Regions from separate parts of the Homo sapiens genome. Here all the other regions are linked to region 1. A link means that fine-mapping ties the variant in region 1 to the plasma level of a protein whose gene starts in the linked region. Region 1 holds a variant in brackets. A gene starts in each other region. All regions are shown on their reverse strands. Region 1 holds the start of FPR3 (formyl peptide receptor 3). Region 2 holds the start of KLRD1 (killer cell lectin like receptor D1). Region 3 holds the start of SMOC2 (SPARC related modular calcium binding 2).

What was found. PIP is the posterior inclusion probability: the model's chance that the variant is causal. Protein levels are from antibody-based Olink assays in UK Biobank. Linkage for the fine-mapping came from a reference panel and not from the study's own genotypes, which makes the PIPs less certain.
Region 2: it holds the start of KLRD1, and the variant in region 1 is fine-mapped to the plasma level of the KLRD1 protein (UK Biobank, PIP above 0.99).
Region 3: SMOC2 starts here. The variant in region 1 is fine-mapped to the plasma level of the SMOC2 protein (UK Biobank, PIP above 0.99).

Annotation. Positions count from the first base shown.
Region 1 is chr19:51,792,534-51,798,815 of GRCh38, reverse strand. FPR3 (formyl peptide receptor 3) reads right to left here and starts at 3,659. Exons shown (of 2, transcript NM_002030.5): 1 at 3,485-3,659. The variant C/T (reference allele first, on the strand shown) is at 3,744.
Region 2 is chr12:10,304,291-10,310,572 of GRCh38, reverse strand. It overlaps KLRD1 (killer cell lectin like receptor D1), which reads right to left and starts at 2,703. Exons shown (of 6, transcript NM_002262.5): 1 at 2,489-2,703; 2 at 1,093-1,185; 3 at 885-947. The coding sequence starts at 2,495.
Region 3 is chr6:168,437,518-168,443,799 of GRCh38, reverse strand. It overlaps SMOC2 (SPARC related modular calcium binding 2), which reads right to left and starts at 2,616. Exons shown (of 13, transcript NM_001166412.2): 1 at 2,346-2,616. The coding sequence starts at 2,429.

The DNA.
Region 1 (6,282 bases):
TTCCCACCCTGGGCTATTTAGCCTCTTTAAGAATGATAGCAATTATGTAGCACTTGTTTACATCTAATACTCATAATAACACTGTGAGGCAGCCATCATCATCCCTTTTTTACTAGGGAGAATCCATGGCCCAGGGACTCCTGTAGTTTTTTCAGCATCATACCTAGCCAGTCAGTGGAGACAGGAAGATTTGTAAACCAGACCGAACAGAGCCACTACCTTTGCACGCTCAAGTGCTGCCATTGAAAGGCGTTCTTCCAAAATTACCAGGATAGGGTCCTGCCCTCGTATAATAAATTTTTTCTCCTATTTCTTTTACTCATTTCCTTCTTTTTTCCTATCATTATCAGTCACTTTCACTGAGGTCTTCCCAGGGACATTGTTTAGTGTAGCTCAGGGTTTCTCAGCTTTGACACCAATGGCATTTTGGGCTGGTTAATTCTTTGTTGTGGTGGACTGTTCTGTACACAGTAGGATGTTTAGCGGCACCCCTGGCCGCTATCCAGAGATGCCAGTAGCAACTCCCCATTCAGGAGTGACAACCAAAAGACATTGTCAAAGATCCCCTGGGAGGCAAAATACCTCCCACCCCCTCCCCCTGCCAGTTGGGTGTCACTGTAACAGTGTAAAGAGTACCAGGCTTTGGAGTCAGTTAGATCTCTACTCTGATCTTATCTCTGACACCTCGATGGTGTAAATTCTTGATCAGTGACATCTCTTTGAGCCCCCATTTTCCCCTCTGCAGAACTGAAATGGTTTTTTGATAAAGACTGATTTTCAGGGGAGGATTAAATAGAATAGACATGGACTGGAGGCTGAGGTGGGGGAATCGCTTGAACCCAGGAGGCAGAGGTTGCAGTGAGCTGAGATTGCACCACTACACTCCAGCTTGGCAACAGAGCGAGACTCCGTCTCAAAAAAAAAAAAAAAAAAAAAAAGAATAGACATGGAAATCATCTAGGATAGGTCGGTAAATCTGTAACAAATTAGAACTCTTAGCCCTCACCAGGCTGTGTGTTGTGTTGTGGGGTACAATCCCGAACCCTGCACTATGAAGCTCAGGGTCAGGACAAGAACGATGCTTATAGCAATAGTAGCTTCTACTTATGAACATTATCCACACACCAAGAGCTTCTCCCTTAACCCTCACAACTCCTCTCATAGGCTCTGTGGATGGGATGTGTTAATATGTGTAAGCACTCAACACACCCTGAGACACGGTGAATATTGATTAATGTTAGTTTTAATTTGTATAACCATTGTACAGACGAGAAAGTTAAGACTTAGATTGAGGTGGGATGTGGTGAGGGATAAAAGATCATTTTTTATACCAAAAAAATTGAAAATTGTATTTCTACTAGATCATTCTATCACATAATCACGCCCCCTCTCTTTCAAGAGAAACCTCCTTTGAAGCATATTTCTTTCCAGCTTCAACCCTATCTAGCCAAATGACCTCTCTGTAAGGTCTGTCTGTAAGACAGAATTTCCAGCCAAACATCCAAAGAGAATGTCTCTAATTCTTCCTTTTCCTTCTTCGCCTCAGCTGTTCTCCTTAATCCACTCCACATTGACTTCTGTCCTTAGCACTCCACCTAATGCATTTTCCCAAGGATGCTTATGACCCCCAGGCTGCCAAATCCAGTGAGTCCTTCTCAGTTTTTAAGACCTGATATCCCAATGACACAGGACCCATTGGATCACTTTCTCCCTTTTCAAACACATTTTTCCTATGCCATGAGATATATCCAAGAGATATGTGCACACAATACACTCTTGGTCGTCTCTACAGCTCGATTCTCTTCCTCTTTTTAGTCCAATTTACGGTGTTTTCTATTCTAAATTTGACTCTAAATGTTGGGGTATCTCACATTCTATAAATGATATCATCCAGTCTCTGGGATTAAACCATTATGCTGTCTTTTCATCTAAATTATCAGCCGTGGCCTCTCCCTGGCACTCAAGTCTGATAAAACCTCTCCCCGTGGGAGTCCCATAGACTCCAAACCTCACATGGTTTTACCAAACTGTTGATGTTCTCTGCCTCCCAGACCTGCCACTCTTCCAATATTCTGTATCTATTTGGAGATTAAATATTCAGTTGTTAAAGCTCCAGATCTAGAACTCACCTTTCATTTCTCTTTTCCTCACCACCCAACGCCATCCACGTCTTACTCATTCTATCTACAGAACATGCTGAATGCACAGCCAGAGCCATTGCCATCTCCACGACCGGTGTCCATGGCCCTGTCAGGCTTGGATATTTGCACAAGCCTTGCAAATAGCTTTTTCCTGGTCCTGCTGCCCCCTCCCCTAAGATCCATTCTCCAGACAGAAACCAAATGAGCTTTAAAAAGGTCCAATAAGATGGTGATGTTATTCGCAATACCTTCCGATGGCTTCCAGACTTCTAAGTTACCCTTATCTTAGGTTCCCTTATCCTAGGTTCCCTTATCCACTGCCACATGTGCCCTGTGCATCCCTCAGACCTCATCTCTGCACTCTCATCAGACACACTGGGCTCCACCCACTGGGCTCTAATTCCTTGAACTTGCAGCTCTTTGTCATCTCAGGGCTTCTGCTTTCTCTATTCCTTCTGCCTACCGTGCTCTTCGTCTTGAGCTTCCTGCACCTGGCTCATCCTGAATATTCATATTTCAGGTCAAATATTATTTCAGAGAGATCCCACCTCACCCACTCTGCAAAGCAGAATGCTCAGGTACAGCCTATCTCACCAGATACTTTTCTCCTTTATTTGTTTGTTCATTTATCTTCTCTCTTAAATACCCTCCACACTAGTACGTAAGCTCCACAGGACTATCAAGATCCTTCAATGCTACATCTCTACAATGCTACATGTCCAGTAGAAATATAATGTGTTAACTTTAGCTACATATGGGACTCAAAATTTTTTTGTAGCCACTGTTTTTAAAAAAGTAAAACACCTTTGGGGAAATTATTTTAGTAATAAATTTTATTTAATTACATATATGATAAAGAATTGGCCAGTCACATTGGCTCACGCCTGTAATCCCAGCACTTTGGGAGGCCGAGGTGGGCAGATCACGAGGTCAGGAGTTGAAGACCAGCCTGGCCAACATATTGAAACCCCGTCTCTACTAAAAATACAAAAAATTAGCCAGGCGTGGTGGCAGGTGCCTGTAATCCCAGCTACTCAGGAGGCTGAGGCAGGAGAATCGCTTGAACCTGGGAGGCAGAGGTTGCAGTGGGCTGAGATTGTGCCACTGCACTCCAGCCTGGGTGACAGCGCAAGACTCCATCAAAAAAAAAAAAAAAAAAAAAAAAAAAAAGAATGTTACTGGAACATGTAACCAAATTAAACACTGTTAATGAAATAGTTAACATTGTTTTCATACTAACGAAGTGGATTCTTCACTGGACTACGCTACTCCAGAGTTAGAAGGGCTCTGTCATATAGCAGGCATTTCAACAATAACTTTAAAATTTTCAGACCCCAACTTACCACCAGCTTAGATCCTTTTCCTGTGCCCAGTTCCTGGATTCCTGTGGAGCAACTCAGGCTCTAAGTACTTGTAAAAAGATGAAGTTATATGTTTGGTTTTAAGATCTTAATTGGCTTTGGTTATAAAGATGGAATCAGACAGCCTGTCATGCTATAAAACAAAATGAGTGTTTTGATAGTTAGAGCCAAGGAAGTTGGTTTTACAGGGATAGGAGGGCTAAAGAAAGCAGAAACAGAGAACAAAAACCTGATTGGTCAT[C/T]TGGATGTTGCATTTTTTTTGTGCAGCAGGAATAGAGAGACAGCAATAAGGAACAACTGATTGATTGAAGTCAAGTTACCACAGATTGCTTTTTTTTTTTTTTTGTAAAGATGAAAGCAGACAGAACTTCATGTTCATGCCCACTGAAACTGGCCTGTTTTAGGAATTTGTCCATTTTCTCTCTCTCCTGATTTCTCAAAAGTTCAGATACATTAGTTTTGGTTTGGTGATGTGGAGTTTTAGTATGACTGACTCCATTTGGTTTGCTTTGTCGAACCTAGTACAATAGGTCAGTCCAAACCACTTACTTGCTGTTTTTATAGAACAGGCTTCAGCAGAGACTTAGTTGAAGGACACGGGGACAATGGAGCTGGAATCAATCCAGTGACACAAACTCAGGGTTTCTTACCATTCCCAGAAGACACCTTGGAGATGTTCTCAGACGATTTATCTTGGAAACTTATGTGTCTGAATGTTCCTTCACCTCTAGCCTTCTGTGGGAGACTGGAGTTCATCCTTCCAAATATCAAAGGCCAAGAAATCTGAGAGTCCAGGCCCTTTCTTTTCAGAGATTCAGGAAAATGAAAGAAACAATTACCAAGGTGAGAAGAATGAGAGGAAAAACAATAAAAAAACAAAGATGCACGGTGAAACAAAAACTCGATTCTCTACTTTCACAATCCTTCTGACCAAATATACTTTTTCTCTACACCAAGAAATTCTCCAATTCTCTGGGGACACCACCTGGGCCACCTGCAATTAAAAATTCGGTTATGATGCTGTCTACCTGGATTCAGCTCAGATCCGAAAAGCTAAAGGGCTCACTCCCACAAACTGTTCTCAGATCAGATCAGACATCTGTTGCAAGTCCCAGGTGGCTACTTGTACTTCTGACTGACAGGCTATAAATTGGGTGTTCCAATGACACCAATAAATTGCTAGAATGGCACACAGAACTCAGGAAAGCACTTTGTTTGCATCTGTTGCTTTATATAAGGAATATACCTCAGGAATAGTCCATTGGAAAGAGGCATATGGCAGGTATATGGCAGGGAAGGGGTTGGGTGGTGCATGGAGCTTCCATGCTCTCTTCAGGCAGCCACTCTCCCAGCACTCCTGAGTGTTCACCAATGTGGAAGCTCATCAAATCTCATTGTTCAAGAGTTTTTATGGAACTCAATCTCCAGTCCCTGCCTCCCCTTCCTGGAGATCAGTAGGTGGGGCTGACAGCTCCAACCCTCTAATCCCTTGGTCTTTCTGGTGACCAGTCCCATCCTAAGGCCATGATCTCCTTAGCATAAACTCAGCTATGATCAAAAGGGGCTGTTTATGAATAACAAATAATACTCCTATCACTCAGGGAATTCCAAGGGTTTTAAGAGCCCTGTGCCAGAAATCTGTGACAAAATCAAATATGCTTTGAGGTATTTCATACCTCAGAGTTACAAAGAGAAGCAGTAACTAGGAGCATGTAGAGAGGTAAGGAAGGTAAATGAGAGACACTGTACACTCCACACCATTGCCGAGATTAACCCCCTAACCTTCTGCCCCTAGGGAGATGCTCTATGGACTACTGATCTAAGGAGATGGGCTCTTTCTGAGTTTTTAAACACCATCAGAATGTTGTTCTCAAGCCCAAGGAATAGAACCATGAAAAACAGTGGAGAGCCACAAAACAAGAGTCAACTATTTTCTATTTTCTCTCTGATTCACTGGATGTTTTCAGTGATAAGGTAGAGTAAACCAATGAAGCACATAAGCCATGGAGAAATTTATTATTAAAAAAAGTTTTGGAAGGGGATAGATCTGGAGTTTGAACAAAAATTGAGTTTAATGTCACCCTTCCACTCCATCATCATATTGGTTTTCTTCTAGGGCTTTCTTGAAAGTGACCACAGAATGGCTGCCACTGTTCTGGACATTGCATCAACAGGCCCTCCCGAGCCAGAATCATGAGACAGGCAGAAAATGTGACTCATTCACATGCCTCTTCCATTTTATTACAGAGGGAAACCTTGTCCAGAGTCTCTTCAGGACCTCTCCTTGTCTTTCATTGCCAGAGCATGCCATCTCTAGACCAATCAATGGCCAAGAAATAACAAAAATACCGATACATAAAAATAAAGGTCAGGGACAGTGGCTCACGCCTGTAATGCCAGAATTTGGGGAGGCCAAGACAGGAAGATTGCTTGAGCTCAGGAGTTCAAGACCAGCCTGGGCAACATAGTGAGACCCCATCTCTAAAACCAAAAAAATATTAGCTGGGTGTGGTGGTGTGGACCTGTAGTTCCAGCTACTCAGGAGGTGAAGTGGGAGGACTGCTTTGTCAGGGAAGTTGAGGCTGCAGTGAGCCATGATGATGCCACTGCCCTCGAGCCTGGGCAATGAGCAATACCTTACCTCAAAAAAAAAAAAAAAAAAAAAAAAGACAAGTTGCTCATATTGGCTTAGGCCAATCATGATTGCTTTCCTAGGACAGTGGCACATTGCTACCTGCCACCTGATTAAAATGGAATTTACTTATCAGTATAATAAAGGG
Region 2 (6,282 bases), not on the chromosome of region 1:
CTACCTCAGCCTCCCAAAGAGCTGGGATTACAGACGTGAGCCACTGTGCCTGGCCAAGATGTTGCACTGTAAATAAACACTATATAATCAAGATGATGGTGAGACAACTTGGGGCGCATTCCGAAAAATACATATTTAGAAAATTGAGGCCGGGCGCAGTGGCTCTGCTGGGTACGGCATAATCCCAACACTTTGGAAGCCGAGGCAGGTGGATGACCTGAGGTCAGGAGTTCGAGACCAGCCTGGCCAACATGGCGAAACCCTGACTCTACTAATAACACAAAAATTAGCTGGGCATGGTGGCGGGCGCCTGTAGTCCCAGCTACTTGGGAGGCTGAGGCAGGAAGGTGGGAGAATCACTTGAACCAGGGAGGCTGATGTGGCAGTGAGCCAAGATCGTGCCACTGCACTCCAGCCTGGACGACAAGAGCAAAACTCCATCTCCAAAAACGAAAATTGGACTTTGAGCTGGCTTTCACTGGATAAGTAAGGTTTAGAAATCTGTGCAGTATATTCTGGAAAAGGAAAAGTAGTGAGATGCAAAAGTATAGGTTATAAGCAAATTCAGGCAGGTAATGAGGATTAACTGTAACATTTCCTGTGGTTTATTTTTTGTTACTTAATTATGAGCACTCATATAGGAAACATATCTTTCGTTTCAGGCTACTATTTTCCTGATTAGTTAAATGTACAAATGATACACATTCAGTGTAATTTAATCATTTTTACATTAGATTGAGCAATGTAAAATGAGACTATCCTACACTGGTAGGCAAATTTCTATTACTAAGTATAATATTCCATCATGCCTCTCTGTGTGAAAAACAAGAAACTGCCTATTTAATCTTTTACCAATGCTAAGTTTTCCAAAAAATGTGACCTACCTTTCTGGAGTTCTATGTTGGGTCCTGGAGTAAATGCTGGCTCAATACTCAGTTTAGTAAAAGCTATAAGAAATGATTAGAAATTTGTTTAATTAGGTATGGGTTTATGAAATACTAAAATATTACACATTAGCAAGATGAAGCCTTTATTATTAAATGATGTCTTCACAGTTTTGATTTTTATGGAGACTTGCTTAGAAAAACTTACAATTTTTCAACAAAATTCCCAACGTAGACATCAACGAAAGGCATATTATCCCTAAGGTCCCAGAAATTAACCTCCACAGAGTGGTCTTAAACACTGTAGAGAAAGACAGACAGAGTAATGACTTAAAGAGCAAACTCAGGAGCTGAGTTCTTAAAAGCAGAAACTAGTGACGGAGAATCCACAACATTCTTTCATTTGATAACGGAGTCATCTTGCCAATAAAACACTGAAGACTTTCCAATCGGGACTTCACCCAATACCAACATTTTTATGTGATGTATCTTATTCTTCAGGAAGATTATTCAAACATTTTCTTCTCTACCAGCTCTGTTGCAGTAAAGTGAATTTACCATTTATTTTAAATTGGCAGAGGTGCTTAAAGATCTGGAGGTAGAAGATATTAACAAGCACCACGTTGTGTTTTATGGACTTACATAACAGGCATTTATTTTTATTCTCTCAACAAAATCACAAGATAGATAGTATGGTTCTCATTACATAGATGAGAAAACATAAGGTCCAATAATAATGTTATTTTCTCAAGGTATCAAAGCAAGTAAGTATCCAAGTCAGAAATCACATGAAAGTGTGTCTAGCTCAAGAATCTTTCATTCAACGTAGTCTACCATTGTCACAATAATACTAGTTGAGAGTATGCCCTCTCCTCATCTCAGTGCAGGTTTTGCTCTGATAAATGTCTAGCTGCTCATTGGTTCGTAGAGATATTATAGGGAAAAGAAGACATAGGAACATTCTGGACTTGGTGTGATAACTGATAACAAATTGATGGGTAACAACTTTGAGGCCTGGCTTCATTTCACAGTATATTGAACATACATAAACAATCCTTTTTCCCCTAGAACATTCCATTTGTTCATACTCAAAATTACTTGCTTTTAGGCCTTTCACCTAAAACATTTCAACATTAGGAGATTCTGTGCTAACGTGAACACACTCTCAAAGAGTGATGTCATTAACAACAGTACAATGTGTCAAACTGTTCATTTGTGTAATTTTTGGATGTCACAACATAAATAGTCAATTAAAACCTTTTCAGCATTGTGTCATTAATATTTGGCATTTTCTATTGCTATACTAGAACACTGTTGCTCACAATTTAACCAGGCTAAAGTTCAGTTCTCACTCAGAATTTAAAGGTAGCCCTGTCAGAAACCACTCTTCAAACCTGTGGAAAAAACTTCATGAAATCATGTCTAAGTTATACAATGAAGAATCAGGAAAATATAATGAATGTGGAAAGTGCTAATGCATGAAAATCCTAAAAACATCCACTGTTAATCATGTCCTTTTCTCTTAAAGCATTACCCCAAAATCAGCCAATCCAAGAAATAGCTTTTCTGGTTATTTTTAATTTAGTGACTGAAATCACACATACCTGCCATGAGAAATTATGTTCCAAGAGCGAAGTAGAGAAGGCACGATGTGTACTTTTTCAGAAAGAACAGCGTTGAATTGTTGAAGCTGAGCTGGAGATTAAAGAATCTGAAAGTTGAGTATGAAGAAATTTAGCAAAAATAGAGAATGAAAAATTGTGTATTTAAATGATGTTCTTGAATCATCTATTGGTGAGACATGTATTATAGTGTGAATAAGAAGCAGTAGAATCACAAGCCTCTGAAGTGTTCCAGGAACCACAATACAGGAAATTCTCACAGTACTTTTGCAATATTAACACTTTGGCAAGGACTAAAGAAGGTGAGAGGAGGTCAGAGGGAGTTTTGTTGCTGTTTTGTTTTTTATTGTTTGAAAATCAAATTCATTTTAAAGGGTTATCTGGAAAATGAAGGAAATGATGGGCAAACCAAAGGTAAATTTACTTAGCATAACAAAATTACTTACAGAATTTTCCTCTTTTAATAATAAACATTTATTATTTACCTTGTACTTAACACAATTTAAAGCACTTGGCATATCTTAGCTCATTTATTTCTGTAAATGGCTTGATAGTAAAGATATATAAATATCTTCAATCTATCAAAGAGAAAACTGAGGCATACAGAGCTAAGTAATTTGCCCAAGGTCACATAAATTGGGATTTCCATGTCTCACTCTGTTCTTCTGATCTCTACCTAATTATCCTGGCCACGACAGGCAAAGTTCAAAAAAGTAGAACTGGATGGGTTTCCCACTTGGACGCCTCATTCACGTTAGCCTTAAAAGCTTTTTTCAACACCTCAATTTTCATTTTCTTAAAGTTCTTTAAGCACGACTTCAGCTTCTTTATTTTCCTTATTTTTACTAATACATTATTATATTGTTTAGTGTGTTATCTAATTCAGATACTATACTGATACTTCGATATACACTTTTTCATCTACAGAAGAGTAACCTTGTTAATAGGAATATCAAATGTGGAACAGGTCAAATTTCCAATGTGGAAGAGATTGGCTATAATAAGAATCTTGAAAGGAGAGATTTCGATCCATGATTTAGTATCTGGAAATACAATCTACCATGCACCCCCATACAAAAGCAGACACTCAAATAAACGTTTTGTGTATTATATTTTGTATATTGTTTATGTTCAAGCATTATAATATTACTATAGATAAACCCTTTTGTAAAAGATGGGCTTTCAACCAACAACAGAAAAAAATGAAAGAAAAGACTACTTTGACTTCTCAGTTTTTATGAAGTCAAAACTTTCCATCTTTTCAGTTTGCATTGTGTGCCTAGAGCTGCTTTCATTGCACCAACAAATTTGTTGAGCTATAAATCCTCACTGAAGAATATAAGCGTAAAATCTACTTCATCCAGACTGTATGCAAATCTTAGTTGAAGTGATTTATTTAAAAATCCTTTGCTTACTTGAAATCTATTCATTTTTAGTGTTAGAAAAAGCTGGTCTGGAAGAAACCTGTCTGATACTATTTTTCCCCCATGTAAAATTGCCTCAAAATATAGGAGATTAGGGGTTTGCTTTTAGTTTTTCTCTTGAGAGAGTACAAATTTATGACAGAATGTGCAATAGGGATTATTACTACACTTTCATTACTAACACAACCACCTTTATTTGGAAGTTAGAGGTTCTAAGTTTTTAGAACCCTGTTTGGTGAGAATACGTCCATCAGTCATTGTCCTTTTTTTCATCTTAGTTCACTGACTTAGAAATAAAAATCCAACAAATACAAGTTTACTTCAAGAACTCCAGGCTTAAATATTTAAGATACCTAAACACACACACACACACACACATACACACACACAGTAAACATATATGTATATACCTCTTTAACTCTTTCTGAGCTGCCAACTCTGATTGTTCTTTTTTTGTTTGTTTTTGTTTGTTTGTTTTTTGAGATGGAGTCTCTGTCACCCAGGCTGGAGTGCAGTGGCTCACTCGGCTCACTGCAAGCTCCGCCTCCCGTGTTCACGCCATTCTCCTGCCTCGGCCTACCGAGTAGCTGGGGCTACAGGCTCCCGCCACCACGCCCAGCTAATTTTTTGTATTTTTTTTTTTTAGTAGAGACGGGGTTTCACCGTGTTAGCCAGGATTGTCTCGATCTCCTGACCTCGTGATCCGCCCGCCTCGGCCTCCCAAAGTGCTGGGATTACAGGCGTGAGCCACCGTGCCCGGCCTCTGTTCTTTCTATTTATTTTTGTACGTAGACAGGTGAATGATTTCCATGTACTGTATCTCTCCCACTCATCTCCACTTGTTCCTGAAGTTATCATTGCCTCGCCTATGTCCCTTGGAATATTTGGGGAACTATGGCCAACTAGTTATCTGTATAGCTGTATCTATGGGTTCTTTTTTTCTCCAATAACTGCTGAAAGCCTTGCTGTTCTCAGACATGCTAATCCGGAAGTGCTGAATAATCATCACCAGAATGGGCGTCAACAAACGAATCTTGTGATTTGCTATACAGTCCAGCAGTCTCAGCCCTAAAGTCAGGTAATTCTGAACATTGTGTTTTGCCCAGTTCCCAGAATTACTCAATAGTGTTATGTTCCAGTCACCTCCTCTAGAAGCTAGATTAAGAAAATAACCTTTATTGCGTTCCACTTTCCCTTTCCTATTACATTTCCTTTCCTACATTTATTGCATACACAATTCCAAATAAAGTTTCTACTCAAAGTATTCTCTGAGTGTGCTGCCGAGAGAAACCAGACTAAATTCCGCTGAAATATCCAGCTTCACTTACATAAATTTGCTTTTGAAAAGTTAGGTATCCTGCCAAAAGAACGTCTCTCTTTGCAGGACTTTCCATCCCCTAGTATCCATTGCAGGAAGATGCCCTCTTCCTCCCCTGCAATTTACTAGTGCCCTTGGTAAGAGCAAGTGATGACTTCAATAGCTAAGTCAACTTTTAAACCTTAGTCAAAAGCCAGGGAAAAGAAACTAATGTTCACTTAACATATAAACAGTGAAGTCTTTTCCCTACCTAAAAATGTATAACTAAAATGTTGCAGAACAAAATAACAGTATACGTTCTAGTATCCCCAAGGGAAAAATTTATTTTGATCTCACTGCTTTTAGAAAATGCATTCTTTGAGCGGAAAGAAAATTGCTCACATCAGGCTGCAAATTATTCTTTTAACAGAGAGAGAGGGCTCCCTGAGAAAAAACAAAAGACGTTACTGACCTGGTAAAATCTCATTGTAAACATGCTAATAACAAACCTACTAGCTATAGTGGTTTCTTATATATAGTGTGTTTTGCTTGCAAAATCCTTATCAATGGAATGATTTTAGCAGGATGTATTAGATTGTCTAAAATTGTTAGTGGTAAAATCAAATAAAAAAATAAAACTAAGGCTGGGCATAGTGGCTCACGCCTGTAATCTCAGCTCTTTTGGAGGCCAAGGCAGGTGGATCACCTGAGGTCAGGAGTTCAAGGCCAGCCTGGCCAACATGGAGAAACCCTGTCTCTACTAAAAATACAAAATTAGTCGGGCATGGTGGCACTCACCTGTAACCCCTGCTACTTGGGAGGCTGAGGCATTAGAGTCTCTTGAACTTGATGAGCTGAGATCGCACCATTGCACTCCAGCCTGGGTGACAAGAGCAAAACACACTATATAAAAAAAAAGCATAAAACTAGAATCTGTGGGTTTATGGAGGCTGGCTTCCTGGAAAAATGTCACATAAGCTATGTGTAACCATAACCATGTAACCATCTGAGTATAAAATGGAGATGTGTCATAACCAAAACATCTCCTTTTGTGT
Region 3 (6,282 bases), not on the chromosome of region 1:
GCCTCTTGATTTATTAAAGTAGGTAGGATGCAAATCGTAGGGAGAGAAGGCCCTTCTTTGAATGAGGGCCTCCGGAGACAAAAGAGATTTCCAAAAACCAGAAGGCAATTTGAAAAGAGATGAGCACACTGAAAAATCCTGCACATCTCACATCTCCCAGCGACCAGTCAGATTTCAGGCCTGCCTCAGTTACTTTGTAACTCAACTACTTCTTGATTTTCTAGACTGGGGGTGGGGTGAGAAGAAGTGTGCCAAAATGTGTTATGGCTTTAATCTTTTCTTCGGGATACTGATTTTATTTGCAAATGTAAATTTCAGGCAAACTGTTCTTGGGGAATGCAGCCAACAGGGCAAAGCCCACGTGGGGTATCAGCTCCTGCACAGAGACCCCACATGCAGCGGGTCTCACCGCAACCCAAGACATCCTTGGGGCAACCTCAAGGGGGCAAAAGGTGAGAGGGTTCAAGTAAATAGTTAGATGAGACAGGGGAGAGAAGACAAGAAAACCTGCCGAGTCTTAAACTGTTCTAATTACTAACTACCTTGATTCTGCTCTTCCAGGGGGGACCAACAGGCCCAACCCCACCCCCCACACACACAGGGCAGCAGGCAGATGGCAGTCTCTACTTTTTGCGCTTTCAGAAAATCTGAAAATCCGTGGCAACTGTAGGTACCTGCTGCTACAGTCCTGGAAGAAAATGCTATGATCTCCTTTGGAGAATTGGCCTTAGTTTCTCTGTCTCCTCTAGTGTGCTTTAAGAGTATGTGGGGGGTCTTTTTGTGAGTGTATACGTGAGTATATTTATGTCTAGATGCATGTACAGATGTGCATATACATGAATGCCTCCAGTGAGTATCCTCTGAGGGCCCCCTCTGGGGAGATAAAGGATCTTCAGGGAAAGCCTGAGTGTGTGAAAACCTCCTTGGAGCCCCAGTTAGCAGTTTCTAATCTACAAGTCATTTGTGAGACACAAGGCAGGGACCCCGGGCTGCTGCAGAAGAATTTGAGGTATGAGCAATGAACTCACAAACCATCCTTCACACTGCTAAAACGCAAAAGAAAGAAGACGAAGAAAAAGAAAAAGAAAAAGAAAAGATGCCCACATGACTGTTTTAAATTTGCTGAAAGGCAGAACCGACCACAGCTTATTTCAACCATCTTTATTTTCAATACAATAAACACCTTTAGGACAAGTCCCCGGCCACTTAAAAAAGACGGCTGTCCACCAGAGGCGTTCTCACTACCTTCGTGTTTTCTCAAACACTTGTTCAAAAACACATTTAAGTGGAATGTTTTCGTTTCTGGCGATTGCATTAATGATGGGTTTGCAAACCCTGCAAGCCCAGGAGGACGGCTGGAGCTGGGGGCTGCAGACACCCGGCCTTGGCCCAGCGGCCGCCGCGGGTTGGCTTGGCCGGCGGGGGCTTGGCTCAGCCCCCTCTACATAGCTCCTCGTTTGACACCGCGTGCGTTGGCCGGGCCAAGGCTGTCGCATAGAAGTTACAGCTCAGAAAGAAAAACACACAGCGGTCAACCGCGGTGACCCTCGCGCTCAGGAGCGCAGCATCCCTGCCACGAGGAAGAACCCAGAGGCCCCGCAGAGCGGGGAGCCGCCGCCTGCCTCCAGTTCTGTCCTGAGAAGGGAAGAAAGCGCTTCTCTAATAACACTCAGGCCCGTGAAGAATCATCTGTAACCTCATCTGCTTCTTCCTCGGCTCACTTACGAGGGTCTCTGGGAGAGTCAGACCCACGAGTGGGGCCCACGACTGGCAGCCCCTTCAGCCGGCGAGAGGCCCGGGATCCGCGCGGCGCACGAGCCCAAAGCGGTCGGGAGAACACGCTCCAGGCCGGGTCCCCGTGGGCGAGGTGGGCGCCCAGTCCCGGCGGGTCTGTCTTGGCCTTGGGACAGTCCGCGGGGCGGCGCCGGCGCTCCCAGACCTGGTTCCCCACAGGCTCAGGCCCAGCAGTGAGTGCGGGACACCCGAGCGCACCCGCAGCTCCCACTTGTCCGGGGTCTGCAGGACCCCAGGATCCTCTCACAGCCGGGTCAGAGCCCCCGAGGCAGGTGGGGTCCCAGCCGGGTGGAACCCGAGGAGCCCGTCGCAGCCGCAGCAGGACCCCGGCGGGCAGGGTCCCCAGAAGCCCATCCCAGCCGGGTCCCAGGCGCGCACGCTGCGTCCTACCTGCTCCAGCCTCGCCGGCAGGCGAAGGCTCCACGGCCCCCGGGGCCACCTGCTCCCCGTGCCCAGGCGCCTGGGCCTGGAGCGGGGCGCGGGGACCCGAACCCGGCCGGCTGCAAGAGGCGGCACCACTTGAGCTCCAGGTCCCGCGGGCCCGGGCTTACCGTGAGCGCCGAGAACTTCTGAGCGGGCACCGGCGGGAGCAGCCCAGCGAGCAGCGGCAGCCAGCAGAGCTGGGGGAGCAGCATGGTGGCGGAGGTGGCGGGAGCGGGAGATCGGCCGCGTCCTGCGCCCTGGCACTGCAGCCGGGAGAGCCCAGTGGGCGAGCGCGGCTGGGCGGGCGCGTGGAGGGGCGGCTCCGCGATGCTCTCCCCACCGCTCCCGGCGGCCCGGCTGGAGCAGCTCCCCTGCAGGCACCCAGAGGTCCTCCGCGTTCTTTGCGTCCGCCCTCGCTCCTGTCAAATACCCCGGAGCTTCCCGGATCCTCCCCTCCCGCCCGCCTCTCTCCCTCCCCCTCTCCTCCCCCAGCCCCACCTCCCAGCGCCCGCTGCCGCGCCCGCTCCGCTCCGGTGCCCGCTGCGGCCCAGAGGCCTCCCTGGCGCGGGTCTGCGGAGCGAGAGGTGGAGCGGGGGCCACCAGGGCTGCGCAGTGGCCTGTCCGGGCTGTCTCTGTGCCTCCTTCCCCGCGCGCACTCTCACACACACACGTGCACACTTACACACACGCACACCCAGGCACACGCACGCACTCATACCCACGCGCGCGCACCCTCGGGGGGCTTCCAAGCACAACCACGGGACGCACCGCGCCCTCCTCACGCCCCAGGGTCCAGGCCCGGTCCGCGCAGGATCAGCCCAGCGGGACTTTTCATCCACAAAGGTTAACGCCAAGCCTTGGCCGGTCCCCAGACTCCGGGGTTCTCCTTGACCTCTGCCCTCTAAGGCCCCCTGGTCCAGCCCAGAACATTGCCTCTCAGAGGTGCTGAAGGATCAGCGGCGCTCCAGCAAAGGCAGCTGGGAACACATGTCCAGGAAAGGCTGCGCCGGGGGCAGCCCGCCTTTGGCATCTTTACACGGGGTTATCCACTGCAGGGATGGGGGAATTTAGGTCCTAAAGATCCGGGGTCTGACCTGGGCTGTAGCCTTGATCCTCTCAAGTCGGGGGAGCATGTGGTTGGGCATCATTCACAGACACATGTGGCTGTTTTTAAACAGCTCTGTCAAAGCATTTCAGGTGTTTGTGCGGGGAGCACAGGGCTTGTGGAGGTTGTAAACTCACCCACGAAGACTACGTTGGAAACCAGGAAATTTTTGCACACCCAGACTCTGGATAATATCCACTGCAGACAACATTGCTGACATAGTTTAGCCTTGGCTTATAACTTTACAGGAAAAAGCCCTAATTCTGTCTCACACAGAAAGCCAGAAGAGTGAAGATTTGTTCAAGAACAATGAATCAATTGACTTGTCAGGGGCATTGGGAAAAGCACAAAACACAGAAAATCCAAATCTGAGGTTTCATCCGATGTCTAGCCCACTGCTTTGGCTATGAACTTTGGGGGAGGGGGCTGTATCAGCAAGTTCTGGGACTGGCTGCTGAGGCAAAGGCAATGCTATTGCAACCTTTCCCACACAATTTTATCAGGAAAGTGATGTCCGTCGGGCCACGGAAAGACGGGAAAGAAATGCACCTTTTCCTGAAGGAGGGCTACTCTCAGAATTCTCCTTAAAATTCCAAAGCCCAGGGAATCTATTAAGCACTTAAACACATTCCTCCTGGTTTAAGGACTTAGAAGGAAATTATAATAAAACTCTTGAGGGACTGCTCCTGGGTCCAGAAAAACAGGTGAGCAGAGCAGCTGCAAATGATTAAGTAAATAGGAATCACTGTTAGGGAACTGCAGTGAAAATTAAAGTAAAAAGAAAATAAACACTACATACCACTAATTCTAAGATTATCCAAAGAATAAAATTTACACTCGAAGCTGACATACTTCCTTTAAGAAGTATTTGCTACTAAAGAACCTGTTTTTCACTTTCCACTTTGTTGAGAGTACTGCTCGTCAGAACTCAAAAGTTTGAAAGCATGTTCATTTATCCACCATCGTCCGCTGCAAGAATGGCAGACAAGAAGCAGACTTAATTATTCCCATTCTACAGATGAGGAACAAAAGTCAAAGGGGCCAAATGTCTTAGCCAGATCTCCTAAGCAACAAAATCATAAACAGAATGCAGATGTTAAAACCTGCAATACTGGCAAATCCATGTCACTTCCTCTGGCAATATGGAGAACAGAAGAAAATCCTTGGCCCTCCGTGCCTTGTATTCAAGAATCCCAACACGTCTTTCATGTAGCAACTCCAGAATCCTCTGGGAACTCTAGGAAGATAAATGAAATGCATTTGTCCAAAACTCTGACAGATGAGGCAGGTTTGGAGCCTTTGAAACCCCTTTCAAATCTGGAGGAGCTCATGTGTCCTGAATGCCAAATTTTAGTTTCTCAAAATTCTAGAAATGGAGTTTGGAGAGATAATCAGGTTCCATTTTTATGGAGAAAAACAATACATTTATTTAAAACACTGGGAAAGAGTTATGTCTGTCTTTTATTTGTAAGTCTCCAAGAAAGTTATTACTGGCAGGAATGCCAGAGAGCTGTCATGTTAGAAAGGATAGAAAAGTAATTCACTCAGTTCAAAGTTAAGACAGGAAGTGATCAGCTCTATACTTTCCAGAGAGTTCCTCTAGGATGCAGGAAGAAGTTCCCCTCTCTTGGAAATGTAGGTTTTTTTGTTTTTTTTTTTAATTAAAAAGTGATGCAGGGCCCATTCTAAAATGTGGCTTATGCATTCAGAATTTAAATGCCTGTCACTGATGAAAGTTACAATAAAGAACAGCAAGAGAAACTAATTACCAAAGACTCCAGCTGTTTTCACATTTCTAAACTAACTTTCCCTCTTAGGCCATTAGCAAAATGCTTTATCATGAGTATTGGCTTCCTTTTTATTTATTTTACTATGCTAAAACTGCAAAAGGATTTTATTTTCATTATAGAAATGATATAATTTAGTTATTATTTCTGGCTAATTCATGTTTAGCCAGAAAACTTTTTGTCAGCTATTTTCCCATCTCAATATGCCAAGCATAAGTTTAGTCAAATATCTCTTTGTTGATGCAGTGACTTCCAGAAATCCCCTCTGCCATCACTCTGAGTATCATCTGGGACTGAACTCAGGTCACTGTTCATACTCTGAGAATCACCCCACATCATCAGTCACCTGCCAGTCACTTATTAATGTTTTCTCCTAGTTTCTACTTAATCATGGGAGCAGGAGTTTTCACCGTTCACCTGGACTTTCTTAGGTAAGTTCTGTGTGATTTTCCTTTTAGACTACCCCCAGGCTGGACCCGAGAATCTGTAGTTCCCCAGGTTTCTGGAGTCTCTGTCCTCTTGTTGGCTTGTTCATTCTGATGACTTGCATCTTCCTTTTAACTTGTTCCCTTCAACCTACGGAAAAATGATGCAGGATCCCCACATCAATCCCAGGTTTTTAGCCCAAGTTCTGCAGCTTCACAAACCTGTGAGCCATATAGAAAGGAAACCACATCGGCAGAGTTGACAAAATCAGAACAGAGCACCGCCGAGGCTCACCGTCACCGCGGCTGCAGGATGAGGCCAGCGTTGACACACCACGTTGAAAAGTGGACAGTGGAGTTGTGTGTTTGATCCTTGGGCCTGACTCAATGGCTTTCTTCCTATTTTGATATATTTAAGTAACAGAGAATTTGGACTTTGTGCTCAACAAAATAATTAAACAAGTTTCTTCTTTTTTTTTTTTTTTTTTGAGATGGAGTCTTGCTCTGTTGCCCAGGCTGGAGTGCAGTGGTGCAATCTCGGCTCACTGCAAGCTCTCCCTCCCGGGTTCACACCATTCTCCTGCCTCAGCCTCCCGAGTAGCTGGGACTACAGGCGCCCACCACCACGCCCAGCTAATTTTTTGTATTTTTAGTAGAGACGGGGTTTCACTGTGTTAGCCAGGATGGTCTCCATCTCCTGACCTCGTGATCCGCCCACCTCGGCCTCCCAAAGTGCTGAGATTACAGG